Regions from separate parts of the Homo sapiens genome. Here regions 2, 3, 4 and 5 are each linked to region 1. The links come from fine-mapping of genetic effects on gene expression. A gene starts in region 1. Each other region holds a variant in brackets. All regions are shown on one strand. Distances are between the middles of the regions. Region 1 holds the start of FBXL4 (F-box and leucine rich repeat protein 4). Region 2 has its middle 38 kb from the start of FBXL4. Region 3 overlaps FBXL4 (F-box and leucine rich repeat protein 4). Region 4 overlaps FBXL4 (F-box and leucine rich repeat protein 4). Region 5 overlaps PNISR (PNN interacting serine and arginine rich protein).

Region 1 (5,107 bases):
TTGAGGAGCACTTTGGCAGAATCTCTCATAATTTAACACTTATGTGTAGCCTCTGACCTAGCAATTCCATATCTTAGGAAATGAACTAACATGCAAACATGACAGTATACAGAATAAACACAAAAATGATCCTTGCAGTTCTGTTTGTAATAAATTTGGAATAATGCCAACAGGGGACTGGCTAAATAACTTTTGGGTTATTCCTACAATGAAATACCAAAAGACTTACAAAAAAGACAAGATACTATTATATGCACTGACACAGAAGGATGTTTATCAATTATTATTAAGTGGAAGCTATAGAAAATTATAGATGGTACACTGCCATTTATGAAACAAAAGTAGACTTAAATATATTTATTTTTAAAATCTGCAAGCAGTGATCATCTTTATGGAACAAGGTTACTGGGTAGGTGGGCACACAGCACTTTCACTTCCTCCTTTAAGGATTTCTGTATTGCTTGATCTTTTTTAAAGAATGCATACATTTATTTCATGGGCTAATAAAGTTTTAAGTGTCCAGTGTAAAATTTATTATATTTTAGATATCCAGTTGTGATGGTAAAATACAAATGGATATGAGGATATCTTCCTCATATCCCAGGGAACACTTCTACAGCCATTTATCTCTTAGATAACCATTTTTCTCTTAGAAACCAGGTACAGAACATCCTAAATCACAGGTGATGGGGAGAGACACACTACAGTTACTATGACACGGTGCAAAGTCAAAAGGCATGCAGATTTTTAATCAGGCTGCTTCTCTATGTAACTGTAAGGAGCAACTCTAGTCGCAAGTTCTGAATGAGCAACAGAAGGGATTTATTTACTAACAGTTAATGATTCAACTGACCATGGAAAAAGCAAGCTAAAATAAATGAATCTCAATAACTGGCAGGAAAATTTTAAAGGGGGGAGGGAGGCAAGAGGTAAAGAAAGGGAATCAACTTGCCCCCACTAAATGTGTTCATTTCAAAAATATTTAGTGATGTCTACAATATGCCAGGCATCGTTCAAATCCCTAGATATTAAAACACATTATAAACCTAGAGCAATAAGAGCATCACAGAAGCCAGGATCACCACAGGGAGCCAAAGAATACTAGACCGTTCAGAAAGTCCCAAGAATACACGGGAATTTAGGGCCTATGGTATTTATAGGACTGATCAGCAGGGAAAAATAGAATTCCAACAAATGATGATGGAGTCACTAACAAAATTATAAAGTTAGAGCCTTCTTATCTCACATTAAATATAAATAAGATCATTAACAATACTAGAAGAAAACGGAGGTGGATATTTATATACAATTCATGTAGATAAAGGCCTTTTTTAAAGGACACTGTGTTAGATCCGCGAAGTTAAGATCGAGAATGTTAACCGCAGCAACATTAAGAGGATGAGACTAACACAGTAAAGAAAGAAGGGGCAGTTTTTGTTAACTGACCATATGTGCAAGTACCATATGTACCATTGTACAGAGTACTATAATCGCATTATTTCATCACGGCGTGAGTAAAGAAATTATCCATCTTACAATGAGTTGACTTATCTGATTTTCAAATAACAGAAGGGAAGAGTTTGAAAATGCAGAGTTCAGAAAAGCCAACTTTTGGCGCAGAAGTTTAAAACAAAGTTAGTACTCAGAACATAAGTATGGAAAGAAGAATCCAATTCAAGGAACTTTTAGAGTGCCTACTAAAGCATAATGCACATTTCCCTCAAGTCCTTAATCTGATAAAGGACTATTGGAGCGCTGATGACTCTGGATGAATCTCTCTCTACTCAACCAACAGATACAATATGCGGTACAGGATAATGGAGGCAGGAAGTGAGCCTGAAAGAAAAAAATATATACCTATAGCTGAACTTAAGAAACCAAGGAGTGCACGCAAGAACCAGAAAAGGCAGCTTGTGTCTGTGAACAGACCAAAGCAAGCAGAGATCCCTGCACCTGGTGGTAATGTGCCCTCCGGAGCACAAAGCCAGACGGGCATCCTGCCAACGCAACTACCTGACCACAGGCTTATACCATCTTCACCTTCTATAATAGTTATTTGTATACTGTATTTCAATCTGTGAATGCATCTCGAAGGTTTGTGGCAATGATTACTGGGAAATCAAGGAAATCCAAAACCACCCGTTATAAATATGTCGACAAGGAGGCCAAGTAGATGGTCATCATCACACTCTAGGGGCACCCCTAAACCTAAACACAGAAACAAGGTTGTAGCTGGGCACCCTGTAGCAGTCCTGAAGAAAGAAAACAGGCCTGGTTAGGCAAAAACCATCGGATGTCAGAGGGAAATCAAGGCAGCAGGCACAGGAATCACAAGCACAGGCGGGCATGTGGCCGACGCGTGGCTGCCGGCGCAGCACTGAGCGCGGGTGTGGGGCGACCCGCAGTCCCCCGCGGTGTAAACAACCCTGAGCCGCGCACACGTCCGAACGACGCCTCACAGCCTGCAGGCAGACTGTAGCGTAGAAAGAGCCCGAGGCACGTCAGCAGTTCTCAAGGGCCCCAGCAAGCCCCGCAAGCGTGAAGCGGAGGCGCGGGGGCGCGGGGCCGCGGGCGGGGAGGGGCGGGCAGCGGGGGCCTCTGCCAGGCGTCCAGACTCCCCAAAGCGCGGAGCTGCGCGCTGGCTCGGCCCCGGCCCCGCCCCGGCGCCAAAGGAAGAAGACAGAGACCCACGGGAGGGAGAAGTAAAGGAAGGGCCGTACCCTGCAGGGTCCGGGAGAGGCGCGCGCCGCGGGCTTCACCAGCGACCAGGCAGCGCGAGAAGGCCTGGGTGCGGGGGCGGCTCCCCGACTCTCTAGATGCGGCACAACCGCCGCAAGCCCGGCCTAGCGCGACCCGGAAGGAAGACGCGGAGGCCGCGAGGAGCGGCGGGCCCGGGGAGGCGGGGCGGAGCCGGGGAGGAGGGGCGGGGCCGCGGGGTTGGGGCGGGGCCGGGGAGGCGGGGCGGGGCCTGGAGGGAGGCGGGGCGGGGCCAGAAGCAAAGCCGGGCGTTTCTCCCATGGGAGGTGCTCTGGGTCCTACGGACAGCCCGCTCCCAGGCCAGGGGGAGGAGCTTTCTGCTGGCTTCCTAGCTCCAGTGGTGCCCGTGTAAAGGGCCTAGGTCATACACAGCGGGTAGTGTCTACAAATCCTCTTCGGAATAATCCCTTCCGAGTACCGGCTCGCCATGTGTAGTGTGGTCCTACAAGGACTTCTTCAGTCCAGACTTGGTGGATCAGATGATACATAGGTAATACGGCTGGTACGCATACGTAGAGGAAAAGTATAATATACATTATATGCACTCTGAAGGTATAATTCACCTAGTTTACAAACCTCCTCTTCCCTGCATACAAATCCTGCCTGCAGGCTCATTTCCATACCAACGTTCAGAAGCCTCTGACCATTACCTCTGATGAAGAAGATGGTCTGGCAGCCTCTCTTACTCATTTTGATTTATTTTTGGTAGATTCAGTATGGCACTTTATTTATTTATTTATGTATTTTTTGAGACGGAGTCTCGCTCTGTCGCCAGGCTGGAGTGCAGTGGCGCGATCTCGGCTCACTGCAACCTCCACCTCCCAGGTTCAAGCGATTCTCCTGCCTCAGCCTCCCGAGTAGCTGGGACTACAAGGGCGCCAAGCTAATATTTTGTATTTTTAGTAGAGACGGGGTTTCACCATATTGGCTAGGATGGTCTTGATCTCCTGACCTTGTGATCCACCTGCCTCAGCCTCCTAAAGTGCTGGGATTACAGCCGTGAGCCACCGCGCCCGCCCTTGGCACTTTTTTTAGTTTGCATCATATTTATCTTGTTACAAAATATCCACTAAGATGGAAAATATTTAATAAAATGTTGAACTACACATTATTTGCTGTCTGAATGCTCCAATGAGGCAAACCAGTAAGGATATTTACTTATATATGAACAGAATCAATATATGATATGCAATATACATTGTATACAAAAAAATTAAAATTTTTATTTTCTTCAACTTTTTGATGCATAATAGCTGTACATATTTTCAGGGTATATGTGATAATTTGATTCATTTCTGTAATCAAATCAGCATAACTGGGTTACTCATCCCCTTAAATATTTATCTTTTCTTTGTGCTAGGAACATTCAAATTGTTCTCTTCTGGCTATTTTGACATGTACTATTGATAAATGTTAGCTGTAGTCACCCTACTGATCTATGGAACACCGGGTCTTATTTCTTCTAAGTGTATGTTTCTTCTAAGTGTATGTTTACCTCCCCTTGCTCCCCCATGGCCCACCCCCCCAATACTTCTCAGTCTCTGAGATCCACTTTCTGAACTCCCACATATGAGTGAGAACATGCATTATTTGCCTTTCTGTGCTTGGCTTATTTCACTCATCATAATGACCTCCAGTTCTATCCATGTTTGTTGCAAATAAAAGGATTTTGTGGAGGGTTTTATGGCTGAATAATATTCTATTGTGTATATGTACCCCATTTTCTTTATCCATTCATCTGTTGCGCGGACACTTAGGTCAATTCTAAATCTTGGCTATTGTAAATAGTGCTGCAATAAACATAGAAGTGCAGATATCTCTTTGATATATGTATTTCCTTTCTGTTGGATCTATACCCAATAGTAGAATTGCTGAATCATATAGTAGTTCTATTTTTAGTTTTTTGAAGAATCTTCAAACAGTTTTTCACAGTGGCTCTAGTAATATTCATTCCTGCCAACAGTGCACACGGGTTCCCCTTTCTCCACATTCTCACCAGTATCTTTTGTTCCTGGCTTTTTTTTTTTTTTTTTTTTTTTGATAAAAGCCATTCTCACTGGGGTGAGATATCTCATTGTTTTGATTTGCATTTATCTGATGATTAGTGATAAGGAGCATTTTTTCATATACCAGTTGGCCATTTGTATGTCTTCTTTTGAGAAATGCCTGTTCAGATCTTCTGCCCATTTTTTAATTGGATTATTTGTTTTTGTTTTTGTTTTTGTTTTTGCTTTCCTATTGAGTTGTTTGAGCTCCTTATATAAAATATTCTGGTTATTAATCCCTTGTTAAATAAATAGTTTGCAAATATTTTCTCCCATTCTGTGGGTTGTCTCTTCACTTGATTGTT
Region 2 (5,107 bases), 38 kb after region 1:
CAGGGCAAATGAGCAACAGTATATAGTCAATGAAAAAACTGACACCTTCTTAAGACCAGAAATAACCACATAACACACTAGCTGCAAAGCCTTCCGTCTGGGTGATAGCAGGCTGTATTTTGCCTTTTGAATTACATTATTTCTTACAGCCCTATTTGGCTTCATTCTTTTCACAAGAAAGCTAAGGAAATTTTTTCTTTTAATAAGAGCTGAAAAAATCCTAGATTTTCCCAGAGGCTGTGTTATGTGTGAGGGTGCCCAGGCAGGGGCAGGAGTGCTGGACTGAGAGCTGGGACATCTGGATCCCACTTTGCTAATTGTGATTGGAGTTTGCCTCTTAATCGCTCTCTACCTTTATGTCTTCATTGTTAAAATAGGAATACTAATAGACGCCCTGCCTGCATAGTTGTTATGAAGATCAAATGAATTAATAAATGGGAGAGTGCTTTGGAAAAGTTAAAAGTGCCACTCAAGCGTTAGTTATTCCTATTTGGCTTTCATATTCTTTGGAAACCTCGTTTATAATAAGGCTTTCCTGGAAAAGTAGCTGTTTCTTGAAATCCCATGAAAGCTTTGTCTTTGTATTATCTCTTATGGGTTCCTTTGGAAGTTCAGCAAGTTTCTCTGTTCCCTACTGTGCTGTGCATACATTGCCCAGAGTGATTCCAGGGCCAGCCCTGAAATGGGCAGCCTGCTCTGCACATGGTCTGCTCAGTGAGGGCTGGTTCTATGGTGTCGAAATTAAAAACACATATGCTGTTTGTAGTGTTTTTCCGATACATTTTCAATAGAACATTTTGAAATGACAGAAATGTACAAAGAAAGAAAAAACATAAACTACCCTTAATCCTACTACCCAAACACAAACATTGTTAACATTTTAATATACCTCATGTATATCCTTCTGGCTTCTTTCCCACGTATATATAGCACACATTGTATATTTGACAATATATGTGTTATTATGAACTGAATGCTTGTGTACTCTCCAGATTCAAATATTGAAGCCCTAAGCCCCAGTGTATTTGGAGATAGGGCCTGTGGAAGGTAGTTAATATTAAATGAGGTCAAAAGGGCAAAGCCCTAGCCTGATAGGACTAATGTTTTTATAAGAAGAGATACCAGAGAACTCCCTGCCACATCCCTTCCCAAGCCATGTGAGGTCACAGCAAGAAGGCAGCCATCTGTGAGCCAGGCAGACAGCCCTCACCAGGAACCAGATCAACTGACACTTTGATCTTGAACTTCCAGCCTCCAGAACTACCAGAAATAAATTTCTGTTGTTTAAGCCACCCAGTTGATGGTATTTGTTACGCCAGCCCAGCCCAAGCAGACTAATTCACACATATTAATACACTTCTACATCATTTAGGGTTTTTTTGCTTAATACATTGTGAACATTTCTCCATGCATTGACAATTCTACAGTGTGATTTGAATTACTTTAAAATATAGCAAAATATGGATACAATCTAATTTTTTTTAGCAATTCTCTACTGTTGGACATTTAGAGGATTATAATTTTGAGCTATTTAAGTAATGCTGTGATAAACATCCTTGGATATTTATCTCTTTGTATAGCTTTCATTCCTCAAAGTAGAAGTGCGGGATTAAAAAGAATGAATACTTTTAGAGCTTTTTATATTTATTAAAATGTCCTCCAGAAAGACTGTATGACTTCACACCTCTACCAATAGCTATTTGAGGTTGCCTATTTTCAAGAACTCTCACCAACAACAGTCGCTATCACTGTAAATTGATATTTATCAATTTGAAGCAAAAAGGTATCTCATCGCTATTTTAATTTGTATTTTTAATTACTAAGCTATTGAATTATTCATATATGTTTGTTTGGAATTTATTCTGTAGGGATAGAAAGGAAAGAATCTCCCTCTTAACATATTATTACAATTATAAACAATTTTATTATTAAAATTTTAATTTTCTAATATGTTAGATACTTACTTTGTTTTATGAGATACACCAAATGTAATCACCAATCCTGTGATTTTCAACAACACAC[T/C]GACATAACCTCTCTGCTTTGCCTTTCATAATTCTGAGAAAACCCCAGAAATATAAAAATGTTTAAGGTTTCATGGAAGCCAGAATTTAAAAATTTAAAAATTTAAAAATAAGTGAGTTTAATTTTATTACCTGAGTGCTTTTTTCTCTAGCTTTAGTTATCTATTTCTCTTCATCACGGCACATAATAGATGAAAAATAAATATTTGTAACATGACTGAATGGATTAACAGGGTAATCATCTACTGTTTTCTCAAGTAGAAACAAATAACAGCCAGCTCTGTTCTAAACCACTTTAAATTAATGACTATCATCCCCTCCATGTCTATCCCTCATGTAATCCTCCTTTACATTCTCCTCTGTAATGTTAAACTTGACTTTTTTCCTCCAAGATCTCCTGAAAGACCACATTACTAATGAACAATGAGTGGCTAAGGGTTCCAGGGATTGCTCTTCCAATTCTCTAACTCAATGGCCAAGGCTTTGGCTCAGTTTCAAGTAACGAGGGGGAAAATTAGGGAAAGTGTGTACAGTTCACAATTTCTCCAAGTCAGGTGGAGAACAAGTGGCATGTAAAGCTCTCTATTTATTCTTTTGTTTAATCAGTAATTGACATAGAAAATTTGCCATAAATTGGCATTGGAAAATTCATTTTTTTTCAGCATATTACCCCAGGAGGCTTTTTGATCTTTATTTTCTTTTGACTGTGACTAACCTTGATCTACCCTTCACTTTTGTCCATTCCCAGTGAAATATATTTTTATAAAATTAGCATCTATTTTTTGGTCATTTGTAAAGAAGCAAGTACCGAGAGAGCTGTCATGACATTTTTGATACAGTTAAAAAAGAGTTAAAAGAAATTGCCTTCAAAAAGACCAGTACAAAAGTACTCCTACATGTACTAGGCTTTCAGATGCCTCAAATATTTTCATGAATGAAAGCCCTTTTGGTTATTTTCATTATAGAAGAAATTCTTTTATGGAAAATTCAAACTAACAAAGGAAGCTCAGATTGCAATTCTAACATTTTTTAGCAGAGTTGACCAAACATGAGTCCTAAATTGACGTATTATGAAACACAATAAATAAGGTTTCAAAGGCTGGCTTAACACTGCAAAGCTTTTTTGAAACAGATCTCTCCTTTATGTATCTATCTTTCTCAAGTTCATGGATCATAAGAGGACATGGAATTTGGAGGCCTCTGGTTATTCTTACAATAGTCACAGCTACTGGGGAGCTGAGCAGTGAGAGTCAGTCACTTCCCATAGAATCATCTGCAGTGAATTGTCCTCATTGCCAGCTTGGAAGTGGAAGAGGCTTTATATTGCATGACCTGGCAGAGTTATTAAAAGACTACATTGGCATTGTGAAAGGTTAATTGCTAATAGATAAACAGTTCAACTCAAACAGTTTCTGTTGAATTCTTACTCTGTCCAACGCACAAAGATGGTAGTGTTGACAGCTGTAGCATGGGTGGGGGTGATGGTGATGGAGGTTGAGTTGGTGGTATGTGTGCGTCTGTGAGGGGGAGAGAGTTACAAAAAGGAATGACCTAGTCCCTGACCTCAAGTATGGTCAATGCTCTAATGGAGGCATGGCCAAAAGCTGTGGGAGCAAAGGGGCAGGAGACATCTATTCTAAAAGATGAGGAAGCGGTGTGGATCACCCAGGAGTTCAGTGGTTCTCGTTTCAGGGTACAAGAGATCAAAATTAAACTCAGTGGAGTGGATCAAGAGGCAGAGGACAGTTTTAGAAAGAAAGAGGTCTTGTAGGTAGCCAAAGGAGTATAGCTAAGACAGATTAAGAATTAGTCAATGAGAGAGACAGACAGACAGACAGAAGAAGGACAAGAATCTGGGCCAGCCCAGGACATTCATGTAGGTAGATTATTATACCTTAGAACCTGAAAGGACTTACGGCTAAACTCCTGGAGAATGTTTGCTCTAAACTAGAATGTTTGGAGAATGTTTGCTCTAAACTAGAGTGTAATCTCCATGGGGGTAGCCAATTTTTCTGTTTTCTTTATTGCCCCCATCCCCCAAAAAGCACCTGGCACTAGTAAGCCACAAAAATATCAGCAGAAAGAATATACGAATATATGGGATGGAAGACTTATAGAGCCAGAAGGGAGGCCTGTGTTCAGAAGCTGGGGTTTGAGGAAATGCCTCCCCTCCTCCCCTCAAGATGTCAGGTGGTAGCATAAATTGTGAACAGTAAACTGAAAAATGTGAAAGATATAATAAGATATTAATTAGAAATATTTTTTATTCCCCTGGAATTGGCATCTAGGACCCAAGACTGAAACTAAAGAGGAATCAATTACCTCATATTATAAAGAGATCAGAAAACAATTAAAAACAAATACCTCCTCAGAGCTTATTAAGAATTGGCCAAACAACAGGGAGGGAGAATTCAAAGGAATTACTGGAGTCATAAGTTATCAACTCAGTGGGGAACACTGTGAGTTTTCTTTCTATTTCCTCTTTCCTAACAGTTTCCAAATTAGGAAGAAGGCTTTAAGAGGATTGCTTGTAGAGATTGTCTGTCAAAAGAAGAGACTGGCCTCTCACTCTCTGGTTGAACATGTACTTACATTACTCGCAGTGCCTTTTTGAGTAGAAAGAACAGAGCGAGATGGCAAGGTGAGGAGAAGACTATACAAGTGGCCTTACTCCCACCATTTGGTCTGGCAAAGATGGCTGGGTTCTCCATGGATCAAATGGACACAAAGGACATAATTAGCTGAACTTAACTCAACAGTGAGAGGACACTGGAATCAAGACATAGTGGGGTGTATTCCTAGAGAAGAAAGTAGGGGCATTGGAAGAGATGAGCCAAGTGAGCCTCAAAAGTCAGGGCACGGTGCAGTGGGACATGCAACATCCCTGCAAAGTCTCCTAAAGAGCAAGAACCCTCATTGTCGAACACCTGGAACACCTTCATCTCATGAGAGAGACAGGATATGGATACCTGCCACCCAGAGGGTCATTCCTGGCCAGGAAAGCAGAGACAGCTGACAGGCCCATGGCTACACCCAGGTAAATAAGAGCTTCTGTTCCCTTTACATTGTCCTCCTCCTTGTGCAAA
Region 3 (5,107 bases), 21 kb before region 1:
TTGGTATTTTCTAGATTATTTTTAAACAATGAAACATCTATTGATTTCATAATCAGTAAAATTTAAAAAGGCTTTTTCTTATATCTTAATAATATATTGGTCACCTTTTTTTCTCTTAAAATGTAATGGTATTTTCAGTAGACTAAAGCTGAAAATCAGTAAAGAAAATTAGAGATACAGGTATAAATAAAGTTTTAACTTTAATCACAACCATATACCAGTAACTCTCAGTAACCCAAGAGCATGATTTGTACTTAAAATTAGTTATGCAGCTGTTAAGTTTTAGACTGGAGAAAACACATTACATGTTCCATTGATCTCCTCCCTAAATCTTTTCAGATTTTTGGAAAAAAGTAGGTAACTTTGTAAGAAGAATGTCAGAGTCCTAATAAAACAATTCTCATATAAGAAAAGATCCTGCCATGCACAGTGGCTCCCATCTGTAATTCCAGCACTTTGGGAGGCCGAGGCAGGCGGATCACCTGAGGTCAAGAGTTCGAGACCAGCCTGCCCAACCTGGTGAAACCCCATCTCTATTAAAAATACAAAAATTAGCCAGGCATGGTGGCACGCACCTGTAATCCCAGCCGCTCAGGTGGCTGAGGCAGGAGAATCTCATTAACCCGAGAGGCAGAGGTTGCAGTGAGCCAAGATCGTGCCACTACACTCCAGCCTGGGCGACAGAGTGAGACCCTGTCTCAAAACAAAACAAAAGATCCTACTCCATTTTTTCCTCTTAGGGAGAAAACAAAAATCTGATTTTAATTAAGGTATGCTGGCTTTCTGAGTTTAAAAAACGACTAATAACATTATTTGCAATGAATTATTAGGTAGTTCTGGAAAAAAAAGTAAAGATTATACCAGCAATCTCCAAGTTGAGCTGTACTCTGTATGTTTTCTGGCAGGCCCTGGAAGTATTCCCTTAGAGATGAGGGGACAGAGATATCAGAGGAGCTGCATGTTACGGAGGTAGCAGCTGACCTCTGCCCGCCTCCTCCTGCACTGGCAGCTGGCCATCCCTACAGTTGAACAGGTGCCCTGATCTGCTCTCAGGCTAGAATGAGAGCGGGAATTTTTATTTATTTTGTTCACTGCTCGCTGACACATCTCTAATACCTAGAACAACACCTAGCACATTAGGTAGGCACTAAAATATTTAATGAACGAGTGATTTAATAAAGTGATATGAAGTCCTAGAAACTGCTAAGATCCATGAGTAATAGAAAAAATGAGCAAATAATATGATCAGATAGTTAAAGGAAAAAGAAATATAAATGGCTTTTAAACATATGAAAAGATTTCAACCTCAGAGATAATAAAAGAATTTTAACAGTTAACATGAGATAACATTTTTCACCTATTAAATTGCAAAAATATTGAAATTTATAAACATACTCTGTAGGCGAGGCTTTGGCAAAACACCCATGTACATGCCCTGCTAGTGGGAATATAAATAGTACAGACTCTTTGGAGAGAAATTTGGCATTACATATGAAAATTACAACTGTTAAAAATTAAAATTAAATGTAACTAAGAATAAATTGTTAAAATGCAAAAAAAAAATGTTAAACATTACAAAATTATCAAATTATCCTTGGTTGAGTAGCCTTCTTCTAGGAAATTTATCCCACAGATATACTTGCACACATGCAAAGTGACTTATGATAAGGTCATTCCCTGCATTAATGTTTATAAGAGCAAAAGACTAGAAACAACTAAGTGCCCATCAATGGGGGACTAGTTAATAAGTTGGGGTTCATACACACTATGCATTACTTGCAAATGCAGGAAAGAATGAGGAAGCTCTCTTTGTACTTACAAGAAAAGATCCAACATATACTACTGTGTGAAACAAGGTACAGAACAGTGTGATAAATATGCTTACTTTTGTGTATAAAAATATAAAATTATATTTGTATTTGCTTGTGTCTGCACAAAGAAATTCTGGAAAGATACAAAATGAGCTGATAAAAGTGGTTTCTTCGAGGGAGGAATGGGTCCTAGGCACATGGAGAACAGGGTACATGTGAGACTGCATTATATTAATATTTTGTAAAATTAGGAGGTTGAATGACAAAAACGACAGCCAAGGAGCTGTTATGCAAAACAGGCTTGTAGGGAGAATGCATGAATTACTTAAAGCAACATTGATTTTTAAATGAATATGGGTGTTGCAAAAACATTCAACTAACGTTAAACCAAATCCCCTAAGGACCTCCTCTGAAGTGTCACTCACAGGCCTATTGTGAGTTGTTGAAAAGATTTAAAAGTAGTAACATGATGCCTGTTTGAAAATATTTTCAAAGTCATATTTCGTACTAACGTCCCAGAATGGCCCATGTCCCTATGAGTTCAAATTGTGCTTTTTGGTTTTGGTAAATTTTATGAGATACAAATATCATAAGCCATGAATATTACAGTATGAGGTATTACAGGTATAAAGCCTGAATTAAATCTTTATATGAGTGATCTCTCTTCCCCATCAGAAAACTAAGGAAAATTTTCAAAATCAAATTCAATTAAGTTACTTAAAAGAATGCTTGCAATAAAAAAGATCTCCAATATTAACAACCAAAACCTTTCTACCATATAACTTAGGTCATTAAAAAATTAGTCTTACCTTACTTCAGCTGGTGGATTTGGGGAATAAGGATTTGCAGAACAAGC[G/A]AGAATTCTAATGACTGCTCCGGGATGATAGGTTTCTAGAACATGTACAGCTGTAGGATACACCTGTTGTTCAAAAGTAAGTTCCACATAGTCCTGGCTCTGAAAATTAGGTGGCGTCCTCTTGAATGGCAAGGAAGCACTAGGACACTGATCCCACCATGTCCCATAAGTTCGAAACACAGCTGTCTGAGTAAAGTCACCAGAACTTGGGAATACATTTGGTACACCAGCCAAATTCCACATAGTATAGGACATACTATTCTCACTTCCATAATGGGAACTGAAATCCACTACTTCTTTGGCATACTGGACTACCTCTGCATTGAGAGGGGAAGTCTGGCTGTTTGATTCTATAGCTCTATGGGTGTTCATCATTTCTCCTCTTGTAGCTGTCCTGGCTCGGCGCCGAAGGCATATATAATAAAACATGGTCAGAACTGTTAACATGGGAAAGACCGGTGACATCTAGATGTGAATTATGAAGCTTCAAAAGGTCAGGTGTCCTCAGTAAGATGCATGAACTCTTTGAAGGATGTTCTAAAAAAATGAATGGCTTGGTGAAGTAAAATAATTTAAATAAGCAGAAAAATGCATGGATAAGGTAATGAACAGGCTCTACCCTCAATGTAATTTCTCAGAATGAAACTAAAAAAACAAGTTTTAAAATACAAATGTGAAGTCTGGTATAAATAAATTTTCTAATGTATTTTTAAGAAACCTAAATATTGTTATGCATACAATATGGGAAGCAAAACTATATTATAAGGCAATTGGAAGATATACAATCCAAAAAGCCGTATTTTATACAAAATTATAACCATCACTCAAGAAATACTAAGTCTTTGAATCTGAAAATTAAAATTATTTAAATTATATGGTGAACCACTAAAATACTGCTGTAAATTCAAAATAATCTTAGACATTGCTGTAATTTTACATGTTAACAAAAATTCCCTACTGTTAATTATTACTCTCTTTCAAACATACAGAATTCAGATTTCACATTATGGGAATATAGTTCTTTGGTGCTGACAGTTAATCCAGATGAACTACATTAACTGCCTTACACATCACAGATCACAGATCAGTGTTTAATTTATAACTCCTAGCATTATTTGTTAGGGCAGTCCATGGCTGGCTGGCATCTGGTTTGTTGCCAGCTACTCTTAGAAATCACTCACCCCAGATAGAATGGTCACAGGATACACATGGGAAATGCAAAAGTTGGCATTCATCCAGGTACCCTGAACTTTGCATGCTGACTTCAGGTACAAATGCTGACATGTGACATTCTTTTACCTGTAAGAAAAGAGTTTTGGAAAATATTTTTATGTCCAAGTCACAAAGTCAAAATATCCAAAATTATAAATAGCCACTTATTCAACCCTTCAAATCAAACAGGCCACATTTTTCTATTTTGTACACAATTTTAAATAATGTATTTTTTAAATGTTATGATAGAATATAATAAAGATTTAATAATGAACGCTATCTATAAAGAGGTTGCAAACTCACAGCTTTTGTTTCAAACTATGTTTGTATACATATTTCACTGAGGCCAAACAGTGTTTTTTAAAAATTTGATCTAGTTTGTAACCTTTAACAATCAACAAGATCCCAAGAGGCATGAGCTCTCTCAGTGGCCACTCTCGTTCCCAGCCAGCTCCACTCATTTACAACATAGGCTGGGGCCCATCCTCATTGAGTAGGTAAACTTTTGTTGACAACAAGGAACTATAAAACAAACTTATTTTTGTACCTGTAAAGTCTTGAGTTTAACTTCTAAGAAGGGAGATGTACCAACTTTTCTTTTTTTTTTTTCGAGACAGGGTGTCTCTCTTGCCGCCCAGGCTGGAGTGCCCTGGCGCAATCTCGGCTCACTGTAACCTCTGCCTCCTGGTTTCAAGCGATTCTCATGCCTCATCCTCCTGAGTAGCTGGGACTACAGGCATACACCATCATGCCCAGCTAATTTTTTGTAGTTTTAGTAGAAACAGGGTTTCACCATGTTAGCAAGGCTGATCTCGAACTCCTGACCTCAGGTGATCTGCCTGCCTCGGCCTCCCAAAGTGCTGGGATTACAGGTGTAAGCCACCACGCCCTGCCCCAACTTTTCTTTAATAGAGCAATGCACTAGTCTTCCAAAACTTCAGCACTAAGATTATAAAACATTATTTGCACTAAATGTCCCTTCCACTGAAAAACCTCCAATGCCTTTTTCTTATCTGCAAGATATAATCTAAATTATTTGGTTTGGTATTTTAAGGCTCTCTTCAAGCTGGACCAATCTCTTCTTGTCTAACCCAGCAAACCCAATCAAGTTCTAACCACTCTTCGTATTTTACGTTAAGTCTCGCTTCCTCTATCATTTCTTTTCCAACCACTTTTTTCCACATCAGTAGCCTTACTTTCTGATACCTACTGGCACTGCATTTTTATG
Region 4 (5,107 bases), 37 kb before region 1:
GAAAAGATATTAAATATTTGCTAAATGTTAAAAATCTTATTTAGATGAGAGAGGGTTTTTTTTAATTTAATGTATTTATCTAGCTAAACTTTTTGTTTTGCAATTAACCTAAATGCTCTTCTTCAATTTATTTTGTTATCTAGGCTCAGTATTAATTTCAGGTCAGATTTTCACTGTTTTAAGCCAAAATATCACAAAACGCAGAGTAACAACAACATGATCTTTAAAATAAGTTTAAAGAGGGTGTAGCCAGAATCTCCCTTACTCCTGATGTTTCTTAGTAATTTTCTTAGTAATTTACTGACTTTCTAATCTGCTCCTTGGCTATTAATTCCCACTTGCCCATGCTGTTGAACCCAATCTCTCTCAGACACTGCAAAATCCCATTGTAGTGGTCCCTATACCTAGAACGATTGAATAATTTTTCTTTAACAAATCTCATCATCCAGATACACCTGTTGATGTGTAAAATATTACACAAACAAAAATCAAAAATTTCAAGTAAAAAGTAAACCCAAACATTAAAGAAAGGTCTAAAATAAGAAGTTTCTTCCTCTCTACACTCAGTTCTAACCATCCCTCTCCCCAAAGATAATCATTGTTTTTCTGATCTCTTCCAAATAAATGTGTATGAAATTCTGTTCTTGAATTTGCACTAAAAGAATGATACTATATACACCATTCAGCAACTTGCTTTTCTCATTTAATGATATATCTTATAGATCTTTCTATATCTGCACATACAGACCCACCTCCTTCCGTTTCATAGAAGTGACATAATTCAACTAGTTCCTCATTGATGTATGTCCTGCTTTTTTTCCTATTGCAAATAATACTGCAATATCATTGTGTGTATGTATTATGCATGTATGTTCATCTTGGCAAACTTTGAAAATATATCCTTATAGTAAATTACATGCATTTAGAAGTTTTGATGCAAGTGGAGAATTGCCATTCACAATGTTCCCATCAATTTATATATCCATAAAAATTGTATGAAAGTACCCTTTTGCTTATATCCTAGACAACATTGGTATCAAAACGTTTTTATTCTGAAAGACAAAAAAGGAAGAAAAGATATAAAACTGTTTTTATTTGTGTTTCTTTTTTTTTTTAACAACAGAAACATAACACTTTCCCAGGGGAGTTGTCGATACATTTCCCACTATCCTCTTGACCTGTTCCTGGACTCTATTCTGTTCCATTTATCTATATGCTATTTCTCCCATATCAATAGTCCTCCAAGTAAAATAACTAAGTTTTTTAAAGCATATGTGTTGGAATGTCATGGATTGTTTGACTGCAAATGAGAATCAGGACTAATACTCCTCTATCACACTTCTTTTCCAGAATGTTCCTGAGTATTTTCATATTTTTAGGCAAACTTCAATTTTAAAAAATTCTGTTTGCATTTTAATTGGGACTTCATTGAATACACTGATTAAGGAAAACCGATATTTTTACTTTATTGTATTTTCCTACTCTAGGGCATGTTCTAATTTTTTAGCAAAAGTAAATTATCTGCAAAGTCTAAAGTATCTGTGACTCCCCTTGACTAATTTGGCTGTATACTGGACCACCCTGAAGATCACTGGCTGAAGGGATAAAATGCAAATCTCTTGGTGAAACCCAAACAGACCTCTATGACGCAGCAGAATAGACTCCACACTGCCAAAGACAGGGAGTCCCAATCACTGTCATCTATGTGCATGGAGCTGTGCACTGAGGCAGCCCTGAGCCTCCATCCAATTCCATCTCCTGCAGCCTCCCCTATCAAATCCTATGCTTTGGTCACACTGAAATACTGGAGTTTCCAAACAAGTCACACAGTTTCACTTCTCATCTTTGTACCTTCTCTTCCCTTTGCCTCAAGTGTCTTCTGGCCTTCATTCAAATTCTATGGGTCAAGCATTTTATCAGGTCTGGATAAAATTCAATAAACTGTTTAAAATGTATTTGCTGAAATTATATTTCTATTTTACAGTTTTTGCAAGTGGGTAAGAATCAAAGCAGCGATTCACTCTCCTCCAGATGAATTGCTCCCACTGCTGCAACAACAGACCCACCGCAGAGCCCTGAGGAGCAACACTGTCAGTATCTCATGCTCCTCTCTCTCCCCAAACCCAGCTTTTCCTTCATCTTTCCTCCCTCCTCCCAGTAAAGGCCAGTTTTGTCCAATCTGTGAAGCTCCCTTTCCATCACATGAGGTCTGGGTGGGATCCTGGTCCCATGGCTTAAAGACCAAATTAACTTGGACACTTAAATTCACCTTTATGTGGCAACTTTAGCTACTTCACAGGATGTGCCATGGCATTTTAACTGTAATATGT[T/C]GGAGAGGCATTATAGTTACTATTACTCTAAGACATTCAAAAGGCTATCTTACTGTTTCATGAAAGTTAAGCTATTTGTGTTATTTCCATGAAATCTGAAATACACATCAATTTGGAAAAGGGATATCTAAGTTGGTTAAAATTTGAGTCTATAAAGTTTCCTTAAAAAGAAAACTGATATACATTTTTAACCACACAGTAGTTTTCAGTGGGAGACAGAAATGCTTGGCCCTACTCTCACCCCTAGGAATATTTCGAAACTGGTGGGGAGAGGTTTTCATGTCACACAGCCCTAGAATGCTACTAGCATTTGATATCTGGGAGCCTGGGATGCTAAAATACCTCAGAAACACCCCAGTAGGGACACACTGAAAACAGGACTTCAGACTAGACAAACAAAAAAGTATTAATAATTCCAGGCCGGGCACGGTGGCTCACGCCCATAATCCCAGCACTCTGGGAGGCCAAGGTGAGTGGATCACGAGGTCAGGAGATCGAGACAATACTGGCTAACACAGTGAAACCCTGTCTCTACTAAAAATACAAAAAAAAAGTTAGCCAGGCATGGTGGCAGGCACCTGTAGTCCCAGCTACTCGGGAGGCTGAGGCAGGAGAATGGCATGAACCCAGGAGGCGGAGCTTGCAGTGAGCCGAGATGGCACCACTGCACTCCAGCCTGGGCAACAGAGCGAGACTCCATCTCGAAAAAAAAAAGAAAAAAAAAAAGTATTGTGGGGGGAGGAGCCAAGATGGCCGAATAGGAACAGCTCGAGTCTATAGGTCCCAGCGTGAGCAACGCATTAGACGGGTGATTTCTGCATTTCCATCTGAGGTACCGGGTTCATCTCACCAGGGAGTGCCAGATAGTGGGCGCAGGACAGTGGGTGCAGCGCACCGTGCGCCAGCCGAAGCAGGGCGAGGCATTGCCTCACTTGGGAAGCACAAGGGATCAGGGAGTTCCCTTTCCTGGTCAAGGAAAGGGGTGACAGATGGCACCTAGAAAATCGGGCCACTCCCACCCAAATACTGCGCTTTTCCGAAGGCCTTAGGAAACGGCGCACCAGGAGATTATATCCCGCACCTGGCTCGGAGGGTCCTACGCCCACGGAGTCTCGCTGATTGCTAGGACAGCAGTCTGAGATCAAACTGCAAGGTGGCAGCCTGGATGGGGGAGGGGCGCCTGCCATTGCCCAGGCTCACTTAGGTAAACAAAGCAGCCGGGAAGCTCAAACTGGGTGGAGCCCACCACAACTCAAGGAGGCCTACCTGCCTCTGTAGGCTCCACCTCTGGGGGCAGGGCACAGACAAACAAAAAGACAGCAGTAACCTCTGCAGACTTAAATGTCCCTGTCTGACACCTTTGAGGAGAGCAGTGGTTCTCCCAGCACGCAGCTGGAGATCTGAGAACGGGCAGACTGCCTCCTCAAGTGGGTCCCTGACCCCTGACCCCCAAGCAGCCTAACTGGGAGGCACCCTCCAGTAGGGGCAGACTGACACCTCACACGGCCGGGTACTCCTCTGAGACAAAACTTCCAGAGAAATGATCAGACAGCAGCATTCGCGGATCACGAAAATCTGCGGTTCTGCAGACACTGCTGCTGACACCCAGGCAAACAGGGTCCGGAGTGGACCTCTAGCAAACTCCAACAGACCTGCAGCTGAGGGTCCTGTCTGTTAGAAGGAAAACTAACAAACAGAAAGGCCATCCACCAAAAACCCATCTGTACATCACCATCATCAAAGACCAAAAGTAGATAAAACCACAAAGATGGGGGAAAAACAGAGCAGAAAAACTGGAAACTCTAAAAAGCAGAGCGCCTCTCCTCCAAAGGAACGCAGTTCCTCACCGGCAATGGAACAAAGCTGGACGGAGAATGACTTTGACGACTTGAGAGAAGAAGGTTTCAGACGATCAAACTACTCCGAGCTACAGGAGGAAATTCAAACCAAAGGCAAAGAAGTTAAAAACTTTGAAAAAAATTTAGACAAATGTATAACTAGAATAACCAATACAGAGAAGTACTTAAAGGAGCTGATGGAGCTGAAAGCCAAGGCTCAAGAACTACGTGAAGAATGCACAAGCCTCAGGAGCCCATGCAATCAACTGGAAGAAAGGTTATCAGTGATGGAAGATGAAATGAATGAAATGAAGCGAGAAGGGATGTTTAGAGAAAAAAGAATAAAAAGAAACGGACAAAGCCTCCAAGAAATATGGGACTATGTGAAAAGACCAAATCTATGTCTGATTGGCGTACCTGAAAGTGACAGGGAGAATGGAACCAAGTTGGAAAACACTCTGCAGGATATTATCCAGGAGAACTTCCCCAATCTAGCAAGGCAGGCCAACATTCAGATTCAGGAGATACAGAGAACGCCACAAATATATTCCTCAAGAAGAGCAACTCCAAGACACATAATTGTCAGATTCACCAAAGTTGAAATGAAGGAAAAAATGTTAAGGGCAGCCAGAGAGAAAGGTCGGGTTACCCACCAAGGGAAGCCCATCAGACTAACTGCTGACCTCTCGGCAGAAACTCTACAAGCCAGAAGAGAGTGGGGGCCAATATTCAACATTCTTAAAGAAAATAATTTTCAACCCAAAATTTTATATCCAGCCAAACTAAGCTTCATAAGTGAAGGAGAAATAAAATACTTCACGGACAAGCAAATGCTGAGAGATTTTGTCACCACCAGGCCTGCCCTAAAAGAGCTCCTGAAGGAAGCACTAAACATGGAAAGGCACAACCGGTACCAGCTGCTGCAAAATCACGCCAAAA
Region 5 (5,107 bases), 460 kb after region 1:
CTCAATATACTTAATGAACGTAATCTTAGGAACATCACTCTAATACTTTCCTATAGGCTAAAATATCTATTTCAGTAAAGTTTTCACACAACCAAGATTTTCACATGGAGTTTCATGTTGGGGATTCTACTTACAAATTTACTTCTCTGAGGTAAACGAGGGCCATCCCCTCCTTCAGCATCTTCTGTGGCCTTTTTTTCTTTTTTGGACAATTGTGAACGTTGTTGTTCCATTCTTTCTTTCTCCAATTTCTTCTGCTTTTCACGTTCCATTTTTTCAAGACCTTCGCGAATCCAAGCGGGAAGAGTCCTGCGTTTTACTGCGTCTGTTTCACGTGGGAAAAATATACGCAAGTCAGTTAAGTAAAATATTTCTACAAACTTGTGAGTAAATTTAAAAAATATCCCATTAAATATCATGCCTTTCTTCAATGCCATCACTTTTAGTAACAGCAGGGACCACTGCTCTAGTGCTTACAATCTGCCAGGACACAATGAAAGCATGTTAAACCATCATCTAATTTAATCCTTACAAAAGCCCTCAGAGATCACTACTATTACTCCACTTTTTTCCACAGGTGAGGAAACTGAGACTCGAAAAAATTAAGTGATTTGCTAGTAAGTTAAAAAAGGAGTAAAGTTAGAATCTTCCTAAAATGTAAAAAGTAAAGATTTATTAACAAATGCTCCTGTCCATTAAATACTGAACAATTTAGAACTTTCCAGATATAAAGTGGCATAAATATGTATTTGTCACTTGAAATAGGCTGGCTCTATAATGTTATTTAAAAAATTGAAATTTTCTGCCAAAATACTTAAGGGAAGTGAAATAACCAGAGGAAAATTAATCTGACAGCAGTGCATCAGATGAACTAAGAGTGGACAGAGATTGAACAATTAGATTTAAAAGGAGAAGGGCTCATATATCTGTATAATGTACTGAAATGCCTACACTGAAGAAAATACCAACATGCTATGGCTAGCATAAATTTTCACTTCATCACAAAATCTGGAATTTAATGTAAAGGTTTAAATAAAATTATTTAAACCTTTTAATTTCAGACCAGTATCATTTTTGTAATTTTAAGCTTTATGACCATAAAAAATAAAGTGTCAATTCCTAACACATCAGAGATACTCAAACAATTTTAAGAAAACAAGACATCCTTTTTATATGATAAAAAAGTCATGCCAATTGTGGTCCACTAAACTAAGTTAAATAGCTACCAATTTGTGGAGGCTCCTGCTTCACAGGAAGTGCAATAGGTGAACGCTGACGATCCCTGAATGATGATGGCCTTTCTCTTCGATTCTGGGGAGGTGCTGGAGGTCCTGGAGGTCCTGGTTGCCAATAAGGAGGATGAAATCCACCTTGCGGTGGACCAAAAGCAGCCCCATGCTGAAAGAGTATTGCAGTTTATTTTTTCTTCAAATTAATACAATATACTCTCTGGGACACACGTGTGTTATGAACTGGGACAGTAGAAATCCATGTGTGCAGCACATCCAAGAATTCCATGGCTCTAATATCCACCGATACTTCTATGGTCCCAAGAACCTAGGCTTACTTGTCTTAAGATTTTCCGGCTATGTAAATGCAAAGAGGCTTCTAAAAGCCAGCTGATAAGCTACTTTCAAGAAGTATATGAAATTTTTCATTCTGAATCCATTTACAAGCTAATCCTACCAACACTAAGACATCAAATAGATACTAATTTCTCTTTAACTAGACATTTTTGTCAATTTCAACATCCTACTTACAGTGAACAAAAAGTGAACTAAACAACTTAAGCTGTTTCTATAATCTTGCAGATATATTCATTTATAAGCAAAGATAGAAGTTAATGAATCATTAAATATTTTCTGCAATTTTGCTATTTTCAGAGGCTTTTCTAGGCCAGCTGCCAATACAGCTCTTTGTCTTGTTTACATGGGATCTACCATGCAAAAGTAGGGTAAGCAGATGCTCCCTGCCATTATATTTCTTCAAACAACATAAAAACTGTTGTATCTGTATACCAAGTATACAAGTATCTGAATATTTATTAATGAGAGGATTACCATCTCAAGGTGAATACTAGATGTCCATTATCAAATCTACCCTAGAATTCATGAAATAATTCTTTCAAAATTTTAAATTATGATAGCAGTTTATAAGTTAATAATTGCAATCAGTTATTTCAAAATGACACCTAGCACT[A/G]TAATTTAAGGGTAGACCCTGGCAGAGGGAATGAAGTAAATAAAGCCCAACATACAACACTATTCCCCACAGAGTTCTATGTCCCTAGGAATGAATTGGATGCTACAGAGGAAATTATATACAATTCCATTAACATGTCATGTCAGAATGGAAAAAAAATGACACTAGAAAAACAGTCATAATTCTACATAGCACAAGGAATTACACTTAGGAAAATGATCTATATTTTTTATTCATGTCTTAACCATGAGCTATATTCAATTACTGTGCATTCTCTAGTCTTTAACATTTAAATATACCATTTTGAAATATAAATTAGAAAATAAAACATCATATAGCTATTGCACTTATACATTTTTAATTTTTTCAAAAGTTTTCCGTAATGATCTTTTATACCATTTTCCTAATGAAATAAAAAAATCAGAAAACAAATTCTAATTATTTTAATACTCAAAAATTGATAACTGAGACAGAATGTGCTTATTTATACAAGTCTGAAAAGTGAAACACGTATCTTAGGTATTCTTGATGAGACACTTCCAAAGAATGGATTACGTGCACATCTACAATATTAAAGCAACAAAATATCTTTCACCTGATAGTCAAACTGGTTCACTGGCCCCACTGCAAAATTATCGGGTGGTCCACCAAAGTTGTGATTGTTCTGGTTAAATATATGCCTGTTGTCAGGGGCAAATTCCCCACTGTCCTGACTGTTGCTGTCTTCAGAAGGAGGAACAATGTCCATTGGGCCTGGTGTTGGTGGCATCCATGGCTGATCTGGAGGGGGGTGTGGGGGTTGCTGATGCATTCCCCATTCTATTTAAGATTTAGGCATAAAAACATTCAACAGGCGGTTATAACAAAATCAACACAGAATTTTAAGATCTCAAGAAAGATTTTTCAGTAAACATACAGATTTAAAAAACAACTTATGACTTCTTGGTCAAATTCCTTTTGTTTATCTTAAAAATAAGCAATGAACTAAACTGTCATATATAATTCAAAATGAGCTAACTCCACTCTAATTCATATCCTAACCAAATGCCCAAAGTTATTTTTAACAAATGTAACAAAATCCAAAGCACTATTTTTGTTGAATTTTTATATTTGTTTAGTAACAACACCACAAAAATAATACCTTGAGGTTTTATATAATTTCTTTCTTACACGAACACATTTATCCTCACAACATCCCTGTGAGGTAGGGAGAAATTAGGTATTATTTTTGCCAATTTCGGGAGGGAAAATCGAGGCACACAGAGGTAAATCACTTGCCCAGGGTCACAAAGTAGAGTAAAACTAAGGGGTAGGGATGCCCGCGGGAGTCATTTAAGAACTTAAACTTAGGAACTAAAACATTTTCAAATGTGGGGAAATTTCACTTTCAAGAAAGCTAGAAATGAACCACCTCACAGTATCAAAGACTAGAATATTTATGTTTTTAAAAGTAATCTGAATTCTCGTTTTTTTTGTTTGTTTGTTTTAAATGAGGGACTCATTCTGTCACCCAGGCTGGAGTGCAGTGGCGTGATCACAGCTCATTGCAGTCTCAATCCCCTAGGCTCAAGCAATCCTCCCACCTCAGCCTCCCAAGTAGCTGGGACTACAGGCATGCGCCTCTATGCCTGACTAAGTTTTAAGGTTTTTTTTTTTTTTTTTTTTGTAGAGACAGGGCCTTGCTATGTTGCCCAGGCTGGTCTCGACTGAGGTCTCCATTCTTATAAGGAGAAACAAAAAGTATTAATAGGGAAAGGAGGTTATGACTTCACCATCAGCATACCCAAATGAGAGGCTGATTCCTCCATAGTTTCAAGTGACTATTAAAAAGGAATAACACAAGCCATGGAAGACTGAATTAGCATCAAGAAATCTACATCATACTGTGAAATAAAACAAACAAAAAAGTAAAACACACAAAAACTTATGAAAGATCTTCACTATCTGAAAAAAAAAAAGGGAAGAAAAAGGTAGGCGGATGGTAGGGGCAGAGTATATTTGACAGACTAATTTGTCACACAGTGACACAATTTTTCTTTAATTAGAGGCTAGACATGTTTTACTCTGCCAGTGCTGCTTCTGAAAAGGCCAGAGGTTGCAATAGAGAGACAAAGAATGCTCTCTTCCCTAGATGCCAAGTGAGGTTTCCAGAGTGTTCCCAGCCCCTGTCAGCCTAGGAATGAAGAACCAAGAAAAGAATCAAACTGAGTGCCACAAAGCTAGCAGAATGAGTACAGAATAATTTTAACCACAAAATGTCAAAGTCAAATCAAATTGAAAACTGCCTATTCTTTAAGAAGCATTAATTTCCAGAAGTCATACAACTAAGCAAATTAAAAAATTTAATAATAATCTTCATTCTGTTTTTTAAAAGTCTTAAAATTGTGAAAACATAAACAACAAACCTGGTTGCCACATTCTGTTGAAGTTTGAATCCCCTTGGAAATTCCCATGATTGTTTGGACCAGATTCCATTGTAGACATATCTTGTCCATTTGGCATCATTCCTGGTGGTTGTTCTACCATGCTTTGCTGTCCTGAAGCTTCTCTTTGGGCAATCCAAGCTTGGGCCAATGCAGCCCAATCAATCTGGCCTAACGTAAATTAACACTGACTTCAGCATTCAGAATGTAGGAGTTAAAAGAATAGTGCCTCTATGTAAAATAAGCAGCTCAACTATTCCTTAGATCTTAAATATTTCAGACAGAGAGGGTATGAGGGAAATTAGAAAAATTTTTTTTGAATGAGATCTTAAATATTAAAGCATACTGTGTCTGAAAGGGTACTTAGCAAATAACCCATATTCAGGCTAAAAAATAATATAAACTACTTACACTTTCAGGAAAGAACTCCACAAAAAACACTCTTAACCCATTTCTAATATTAATTCATATAAAATTTATCCCCT

Evidence for each region.
Region 2: its variant is fine-mapped to the expression of FBXL4 in whole blood (TOPMed, PIP above 0.99).
Region 3: its variant is fine-mapped to the expression of FBXL4 in whole blood (INTERVAL, PIP above 0.99). The same link has a PIP of 0.9 or more in lung.
Region 4: its variant is fine-mapped to the expression of FBXL4 in whole blood (INTERVAL, PIP above 0.99).
Region 5: its variant is fine-mapped to the expression of FBXL4 in prostate (GTEx, PIP 0.96).

What each region holds. Positions count from the first base shown.
Region 1 is chr6:98,945,086-98,950,192 of GRCh38, forward strand. It overlaps FBXL4 (F-box and leucine rich repeat protein 4), which reads right to left and starts at 2,861. Exons shown (of 10, transcript NM_001278716.2): 1 at 2,721-2,861. RefSeq lists enhancers at 1,751-1,940, 2,744-3,255 and silencers at 2,381-2,690, 2,988-3,282.
Region 2 is chr6:98,983,186-98,988,292 of GRCh38, forward strand. No RefSeq gene overlaps it. Among named protein-coding and RNA genes, the nearest start is that of FBXL4, 38 kb to the left of the region's middle. The variant T/C (reference allele first, on the strand shown) is at 2,023.
Region 3 is chr6:98,923,857-98,928,963 of GRCh38, forward strand. FBXL4 (F-box and leucine rich repeat protein 4) reads right to left here. Exons shown (of 10, transcript NM_001278716.2): 3 at 3,849-3,966; 4 at 2,621-3,204. The coding sequence starts at 3,132. Among named protein-coding and RNA genes, the nearest start is that of FBXL4, 22 kb to the right of the region's middle. The variant G/A (reference allele first, on the strand shown) is at 2,668.
Region 4 is chr6:98,907,624-98,912,730 of GRCh38, forward strand. All of the region lies in intron 5 of FBXL4 (F-box and leucine rich repeat protein 4), which reads right to left. Among named protein-coding and RNA genes, the nearest start is that of FBXL4, 38 kb to the right of the region's middle. The variant T/C (reference allele first, on the strand shown) is at 2,331.
Region 5 is chr6:99,407,947-99,413,053 of GRCh38, forward strand. PNISR (PNN interacting serine and arginine rich protein) reads right to left here. Exons shown (of 12, transcript NM_032870.4): 4 at 4,605-4,793; 5 at 2,795-3,018; 6 at 1,227-1,398; 7 at 135-325. Among named protein-coding and RNA genes, the nearest start is that of PNISR-AS1, 14 kb to the right of the region's middle. The variant A/G (reference allele first, on the strand shown) is at 2,200.